Homo sapiens: one gene and its partner. The protein of the gene in region 2 interacts with the protein of the main gene of each other region in a pairwise test. Each region holds a gene or a part of one and is shown on either strand. Other genes may lie near its edges.

Evidence for each region. The genes of interacting proteins can lie anywhere in the genome.
Region 1: the proteins of LHX8 (region 2) and NUTM1 interact in binary tests that used the Homo sapiens proteins (3 or more experiments, as listed by UniProt).

Annotation. Positions count from the first base shown.
Region 1 is NC_000015.10:34,349,815-34,353,314, forward strand, and holds part of NUTM1 (NUT family member 1), read left to right. Parts: intron 1-889; coding exon 890-1,018; intron 1,019-3,500. UniProt on the Homo sapiens protein: Plays a role in the regulation of proliferation. Regulates TERT expression by modulating SP1 binding to TERT promoter binding sites.
Region 2 is NC_000001.11:75,143,551-75,148,963, forward strand, and holds part of LHX8 (LIM/homeobox protein Lhx8), read left to right. Parts: intron 1-294; coding exon 295-398; intron 399-5,036; coding exon 5,037-5,132; intron 5,133-5,413. UniProt on the Homo sapiens protein: Transcription factor involved in differentiation of certain neurons and mesenchymal cells.

The DNA of each region.
Region 1 (3,500 bases), on a different chromosome or scaffold from region 2:
GATCTGAGTTCGCTCTTGGAGCCTAGCAGGCTAAATTTCAAAATCTTGAACCAATGTGGGCTCTCAAGGTTTGCATGGGATCCATTTGCTTTGGGTCCTGGTCTGCTTGTGCTTCACACTCAGGGGCTCTGGGCAGGGTCTTCCACAAGAGGCAGTCCAGACCACTGCAACATGGGAAGCTCCTAAAATGCTCAGTTGTGGGATCCTGGGGAGCTGCAAGTTGATTATAACGAGCTTCCCCAAGCGATTCTGATGCCCAATAATGTCTGAGGACTCCAAGGGAGTCAGAGAGACAAAAATGAAGCCCTTGCTTTAGGCTGGGCTCTTGATTTCTTCTGGATTAGGAAGGGCTCAAGAGCCCTCTAGAAGTGGGGGTCTAGTACTGGCATTTAACTGTCTGTGGGGAATATCTGGAAACAAAGACTGAAAAACCAATAAATAAAAACACCACATGACCTTTAATTAGAGATTCCTTTGGGTTAGCAAATGCCTTTAAAGAAAAAATGCAAGAGCCTTTGGACAAGGTTAAACATACTTTATAGCAAATCCCATTCATTTAATAACGCGAGTCCTCCCTTTCTAATAATTAATTGAGGATGGCACTGTGATAATTAGGGGTGGTAGTTGCCATTGATTTTAAAAGGTGGGGAGAAGAATTGTCTGTTTGATTTTATATTAGTTGTAAAGTTCAACAGGAAGAGGGGCGAGTATGGTAGATGAATGGATGGGAGGTTGAGCGTCTGTAAGTCTAATCAGAAGTGGGACACGACAGGCCCTAAGGGGCACAATAGATTTGATGAGGGGCAGGGGATGTGTTATTGATGTAGGTGTCAGGGCAGGTGGATGGGAGCACACTTTTAGAATGTGACTGACTCAATGGGGGTTTTAGCCCAGTGCTTCGTTCCCTGGCCCGGCTGAAGCCCACTATGACCCTGGAGGAGGGACTGCCATTGGCTGTGCAGGAGTGGGAGCACACCAGCAACTTTGACCGGATGATCTTTTATGAGATGGCAGAAAGGTGAGTTCGATGAACCTTCATTCTCCTGAGGGAGGCTGTGTGGCTGAGAGCAGTAAGGGCCGCAGAGAGACTTGTGTGGGGGTGATTATCAAAAGCCATGTTAGGATGGGGCGCAGCGGCTCACGCCTGTAATCCCACCACTTTGGGAGGCCAAGGCCGGTGGATCACCTGAGGTCAGGAGTTCGAGAACAGCCTGGCCAACATGGCGAAACCCTGTCTCTACTAAAAAAAAAAAAAATACAAAAATTAGCCGGGCATGGTGGCATGTGCCTGTAGTCCCAGCTACTCAGGAGGCTGAGGCAGGAGAATCGTTTGAACCTGGGAGGTGGAGGTTGCTGTGAGCCAAGATCATGCCTCTGCACTCCAGCATGGGTGACAGAGCAAGACTCCATCTCAAAAAAAAAAAAAAAAAAAAAAAAAAAAAAAAAAAAAGGGATGTTAGGCTGGGTGTGTGCTTGTAGTCCCAGCTACTCTAGAGGCTAAGGTGGGAGGATGGTTTGGGTTCAGTAGTTCAAGACCAGCCTGGACAACATAGCAAGACCTCATCACAAAAAAAAAAAAAAGAAAAGAAAAGAAAAAAAGGGACGGGAGGAGGGGTGTAGACTAGGATGGCAGTTTCCTGGATCCTTGCTTCTTCTTCCACCACCTTGACTCTTGGGTTTTTCTATCCTGTTTCCTCTTGAAAGCTCCCCCCTCACCAGATCCTGAATCTGTATAGGAGCCTTGATATTGTAGGTCTTAGGATGGGATTGGAGATTGGACCCCGATAGATATAGAAATTTCATGCTGAAGGGACCTAGCAATGAGGAGGTGTGCTCTACCAGGCAGGTTCTTTTCTCTTCTCATTGACTTGGTAGCAAGTGGCTATTGATACAGAACTTCAGGACCACTCCTCCATTGGAAATAGTGGCACAGAAAATCCCTTTCCGCCTTTATCCCAGGGAGGGGGCTGGTTCTGGAAGAGCCGGGGAAAGCCAGTGTCCTGGATGCCCAAAGTTGTCTCCTGGCTCTTCTTCTATTTCTCTATAATATCTTTGATTAAAAAAAAAAAAAAAAGGCTAGGCGTGGTGGCTCCGCCTGTAATCCCAGCACTTTGGGAGGCCGAGGCAGGCAGATCACCTGAGGTCGGGAGTTCGAGACCAGCCTGACTAACATGGAGAAACCCCCATCTCTACTAAAAATACAAAATTAGCCAGGCATGGTGGCGCATGCCTGTAATCCCAGCTACTCAGGAGGCTGAGGCAGGAGAATCGCTTGAACCCAGGAGGCAGAGGTTGCGGTGAGCCGAGATTGTGCCATTGCACTCCAGCCTCGGCAACAAGAGCGAAACTCTGTCTCAAAAAAAGAAAGAAAGAAAGAAAAAACTCAGAAAAATGAACAGATTCTTCCAAGCTTAGCTTCCACTTACTCCCTCCCAAAACCTTTTGGACCCATGCTTCCTAGACTTACCTTTCCAAGAATCCCATCCCAGTCTCAGGACTCTGGGATCTCACATTGTTTCCTGGTAGGAACTGCCTTGAATTCTTTGTGGTTGTAGGCAGGGGCAAATGAGGTCTTGAGGAGGATCCCACTGTGAGATCCCACCAGGCTGTTGCATAGGCCTGATTAAGTTAAACAAGCCTATATTGAGCACTGCTGTGTACAATCCATGAAGCTGGGTGAGATAGGTACGGAAAACAAGTGAGGCCGGGCACATTGGCTCACACCTGTAATCCCAGCATTTTGGGAGGGTGAGGCGGGCGGATCATGAAGTCAGGAGATTGAGACCATTCTGGCTAACACGGTGAAACCCCGTCTCTACTAAAAATACAAAAAAAAAAAAAAAAAGCCAGGCGTGGTGGCACGCACCTGTAGTCCCAGCTACTCAGGAGACTGAGGCAGGAGAATCACTTGAACCCGGGAGGCAGAGGTTGCAGTGAGCCGAGATTGGGCCACTGCACTTCATCCTGGGCGACAGAGTGAGACTCTGTCTCAAAAACAAAAACAAGTACTGAAAGCCCTCACTGTGTCCAAGAGAAGTTTACAAGCTCTAGATCATTCTTAACTTTTTTTTTTTTTTTTTTTTTTTTTTGAGACAAAGTCTCACACTGTTGCCTGGGCTGGAGTGCAATGGCACGATCTCGGCTCACTGCAACCTCTGCCTCCTGGGTTCAAGTGATTCTCCTGCCTAAGCCTCCCGAGTAGCTGGGATTACAGGCACCCACCACCACATCAGGCTAATTTTGTGCATTTTTAGTAGAGACGGGGTTTCACTATGTTGGCCAGGCTGGTCTCGAACTCCTGACCTCATGATCCGCCCGCCTCAGCCTCCCAAAGTGCTGGGGTTACAGGCGTGAGCCACTGCGCCTGGCCTCATTCTTTACTTTTTAAAAATTTTCTTGAGGCAGGATCTCACTCTGTTGCCCAGGCTGGAGTGCAGTGGCACTGTCATGGCTCACTGCAGCCTTCACCTCTTGAGCTCAAGCGATCCTCCCACCTCAGC
Region 2 (5,413 bases):
AGCAGCTTTGAGTTAGGGTTTTGCTTTTCTTTTTGTAAATAGTTGTTTTCCTGTATTTGCTGGGCCTTAGATGTGTACTTCTAACTTTTTGAACTTTTCACTAAATATACAAGTCTGTAAGTGGAATATTTTTTGTACAGTATATCTGTAGTATGTTTTAAAACTTAAGGGGTTTTGCCGTCTAGAAAACATATACAGTTACACAAAAAGCCAAGAGATATAAGAAACCTGTTATTGTAAGATGGGTGTACCCATTTGAATTACCAACATATATAGTGTGTTTTTTAAATGCAGGGAATGGGATTAGTGTGGAAGGTGCCCTCCTCACAGAGCAAGATGTTAACCATCCAAAACCAGCAAAAAGAGCTCGGACCAGCTTTACAGCAGATCAGCTTCAGGTAAGCATAACAATGAATTTTTTATTTTTGAAGCCCCTCCCAACCAAAAAAACAAAAAGTAACCTCCATGCTGCCCAAAAACATTTTTATGTTTTCTAAAAAATTAGCCTATGTGTTTTATGAAAACTAATTTGGTGAATATATGAAAACATACTTATTGCCCTAAAGTGTTTGCATTTCTAGCATCATAATATAATATGAAATAGTCATTCAAGTTTTGTTTCCCTGGGGTCTATTGGTATCAACATCAAAGTGGAAACAAAGTATTTTGTCCTGACTTCCTGATTGCATCGTTCTGAACCAGGCATTTATATTACTACACATAATTGCAATGGAAGACAAAATATTTTGAGACTCTGAAGAGAGACATACATGTCCCATGTGAGTCTATGGGACGCTAATGTGTTAGTCTTTGTAACAAACTGCAATGAGTCATTTAATGAACACAATTGTACAGTTTTTGAGTAGGAAATAATTGAAAGTGCCTTAAAGTAAATAGGAAACTACTGGTTGACTACAATTGAGCAGATTCCTTTATGTTTTTAAAGGTGGTAAAGGGAGTACTTCTATAATTTGATATTAAAGTTTTATTATGTCCCCTGAAAAGGGAGGGATTTTTTTTAGCTTAGTTGCCCTAAACATGATTGTTATAAATTTGATTTATACAAATTATCAAAATAATTAAATTACTCTTTGCTTTATAAACCTATATAATGATTCCTTCTGGCATTTTTGCAGATAATGAAATCATATTTTCTAAAAGATTAATGTGGCTGAGGTATTTGTTTCATGTTAAGGAAAAGTAACATTTGTTGAACGCCTATCACACTGCTGGGTACCTTATACATAGTATCCATCTTAGCTCAGACTTTAAAGGACATTTATGCAGTGTTAACAAATGAATAAAAGTAACTTTTTCGAAAATCACGTTTAGTATTCTAAGACCTGCCAGTATTTAAGATGGATACAAGTGTTTCAGGAGATAATTTTTATTTTGAGAATGATTTAGAAAAGAAACCTTGATGTGACACACATATTCCAAGGGAACGTGGCAATGGGAAGCACTCTAGCATTAAAATCTAGATCCATTCAGAAGAATTTTCCAAATGGATGATTGTTTCAGATTTCTTAATTTAGGCATAAATTCGATTTCTTAATTTAGGCATAAAGTACATAGTCAATAAGCAAAAAATGAAAGATAAGCCAATTGAAAGAAATATCTCTGTTTGAGCCTTGCTTTCTGGGTTCTTCATTGGATTATTATGAAGATCACACAATGCCCTGTCAGAAGATGTGAGTACTTCTGAAAGACCTGGAAAAATACTCAGTCACTAAAGGTGTCTAGTTAAAATAGAATCTCTAATATAAATCTGTTTTCACAATGGTCTGTTCCCATGAAGGACTGGCTGTAATTTTAATAATTACAAGGTTGATAACTTTCATTTGATATAATAATTTATTATTAAAAATAAAATTGTGAAAATTTGAAACCACTGTAGATAGACACTTTTCTATGGGAAAATAATTACAAATACTAATTAAATAAAATGGGAATAATATTTGTGGAGGTCTTTTTATGCCAAATCCTATACCAGGCATTTATCTACTTTATCTCCTTTAACTTTTACAACAAACCTCATTCAAGAGTGCAGGAACTCCTCAAAGCAAACCACCAAGGGAGTGGTTGAGAAGAGATTTGGAACCTTCTCCTCAAACATCTGGTCTCTTCATTTTGCTTGATCTTCCAGGAGACCATGAGTGGAAGTCTGTCTTATCAAAACTCCAATTAATAGCAGCAGCAGCTAAAACAAAAGAGTGAGATTTTGAATCTTGTAGATAGCCTTATGGTTAAACATGCATAAAATATTTAAGCCTTACATTATGGTATGTAAATGTGATCTAAATCATAAGTTTTAAAAATTGTATATCAGAATTATAGGTTTTAAAAAATGAAAGCATATTACCATTTTCAGATTACTGATGAAAGCATAGGTAATATGCTTTCAAAGTATATTCTCATTCAATATTTATTAGCATTTTATCTTATGGAAGGGGTGGCTGAAACAAATGAGATACAATCTTTGTCCTAAAGTGGTTCTTTATAATTTAGGAATCTGAAATAGATATTTTAAAAAACTGAATCATTTATTTTAGCCAGACACTCTAATAAATCGGTATCCTTATTGTCAAACTCTCCTACATTTAGGAATGCTGAATATTTTCAACTAGAGCTTGAATTTGGCAAGATAATAAAATATTACATGTGACCAGTGAGTAAGTCAAGACTATCTAGTCAGTACCTGCTTTGGACAGAGGAGAGTTAAAATGGAAGGGATAAATAAGAAAATTTTCCAAAATTATTCTATAGAGATTTATGGGGAGAAAAAATAGTTTAAGACTCAGAGGATGTATTGGCAAATATATTTCAAATACCGTCCCATTTGTAGAAATGATATTTAAGAATTTCCTGCTAATATTATGGATTGCTTATTCTATGTAGAAGCACTCACTTAGTGATTATTAATATTAAACACGCCAAAGTTAGCTCCTGCTTTAGTCTGTTTTCAGATCGAGTTACTGCTATGCAGCCTCCTGACTTTTCTGGTAGATCTCCTGGCCTAAAAATGATGAGTGTCTACAGAGGCTCACTCCTTGTCCACGTTAGAAGAACTTGGAAAAGGAGTGAAGTAGGCTTCAGCAGCATTAGTGCCTAGAGAATAGTGAAACTAAGTAGAAATTAAAAGTACCTCTTTTTTCTTTTTGTGTGTGTGAGACTAATCATTGATACTATTGAAAGGAAGAACAATCAACTCATCTTACTTTTCCTTTAGAATATTTCAATTCTAAATGATCAGAGTTGTTTTGCTTTACTCTTTAATGAGAAATTACTTAACTAAATACAATTTGATTGCAGTTAAATTTGTGAATTTAAAAATGCATTTATGAAAGGCATGAAGTTTCTGTTTTGTAAATTATTAATAATGACCTTACAAAATCCCCAAATCTGTTCAACATTTTTCTATTTGAAAAATTAAAAAACAAAGACATAATTTGCTCGTTCTTTTTGGGGTTATTACATGTTCAACTGCATAGAAACATAACTCTATTTTCACAGGAAGATACCAAAGTAACACATTTGGAGTAGGAAAGAAAGAATAAAGTGAACTGAGCAAGAATAAACTTTTAAGCCAATTCTGCCCTTTTTTAAAAGCAAAAATCCATGTTCTGTTTACAGTGAGTCTGTAGATACAATATAGTTAGATGGGAAGCCAAGAATACTTAATTCTAGAAGGGTAAATTTGTAAATCTCAAAATTTGTAAACCTCAGAAGGTTTCCCAGAACAATATTGGCCTTTTTTTCTACACTGTCTTCAGATTTTCCTTACATTGCCAAGTTTTACTCTGTCAGAAACTCTTAACATACTCTCTGACAGAAAGGGAGTTTAACTCCTAGGGATACGAAAAATAAGACATTCCCCTTGATCTCAAGGAACTCACTTTCCACTATGGAGATAAACTTGAAAACAAATTATTTAGCTACCCTGTGACAAGTGCAGTGGCAGAAGATAGCATTATATGAGGAGCATAGTGGAGAATGCAATTAATTTTGCCTGCTGAAAAGAGTGAAGTCCAGCAGTGCTTGAGGTCTTTAATAGATTGGTTACCCACATCCTATGCCTGTAGACAAGCACAATCACATTGGGTGCCAAGCTCTTCTCTCTCATTCTTCATAATAATACATTTTTTACATTTTGTAATGCTTCCCTCAGTTGACTGACTTTTAGTAATAAAATTCAAGTATCTCACTTAATTCTCATAATGATTCTCTTTTCTGAAAGAATTCAAAGTTTTTGGCTTGTGCTTATATTCTGGTACTCTCTCCCACACTACTCTTCTCCCTTTATCTTTTATTATAGGTAGTCATTGGCATGTCGGCATCTTTCTGCCAGGAAATTAAATCCAAAGAGTTTTGTTTCATGTTTCACTATCTCTTAGCACTTGGCATAGTGGTTTCAATCCAAAGGCTTACATCAGAATCACCTGTAAGCTTTTAAAATATATACATGTTTAGACTCTGGTAAATTCTTATTCAGTGGACTGGTGAGTGTCTCTTTTTAGACACCTTTTTTTTTGCATAGAGCTAGTGCTCAAAACTATGATGGAGTTGTTACAATTAAGTGGAATCCTTCTGTTGATCTGTATACTATTAGGTATTAGGGGCCTTGAACATCTTTAGCTCAGGAAAGGTTGGAGACAAATGTGATATGATTTTTGTATTAAGTTTTCAAATGTTGGCAGTTTTTAACAAAATGGAAAAAACAATAAATGAAACTCTTGCTATTTGATTTGTGGGTTATAAGATTGAAAGAAAAGAAAAGGTGAGCTTATTTTTAACAGCATAGTTGAGAGAGTTTTACATTGAAATGGATTTTTTTAAAGTTCTCAGCATAGCAACTTGTGTATAAATTTACAAAATATGCATTCGTTTTCACTTACCCATATTTCCCCATACCGATTTTCAAGTAACAAAAGTATCCCATGTTCTTGTGCATGTCTTACCTCTTATGATAAAAATGCAGGAAGAAGACTGAGCTGCTTGTTTTTAGCTATTTACTACATACATGTTTTAAACAACAGGTTATGCAAGCACAATTTGCTCAGGACAACAACCCAGATGCACAGACACTCCAGAAATTGGCAGAAAGGACAGGCTTGAGCAGACGTGTGATACAGGTGATTACTTTACTTTTTTTTTTTTTTAAGGTTTTTAAAAAATAGATATTGGGTCTCCCTATGTTGCCCAGACTGATCTTGAACTCTTGAGCTTAAGTGATTCTCCCACCTCAGCCTCCCAAAGTAATGGGATTACAGGATGAGCCACTGTACCTGGCCACAGGTGATTAACTTAAAGGTCAATCAAGAGAAACAAAAAGTTCTAATTCTGGGTATTTATAAGTATGCATTGGTGTTTTTTTGTGTGTGAAGAAATGTGAAAACATTGCTTTTTCATTTTA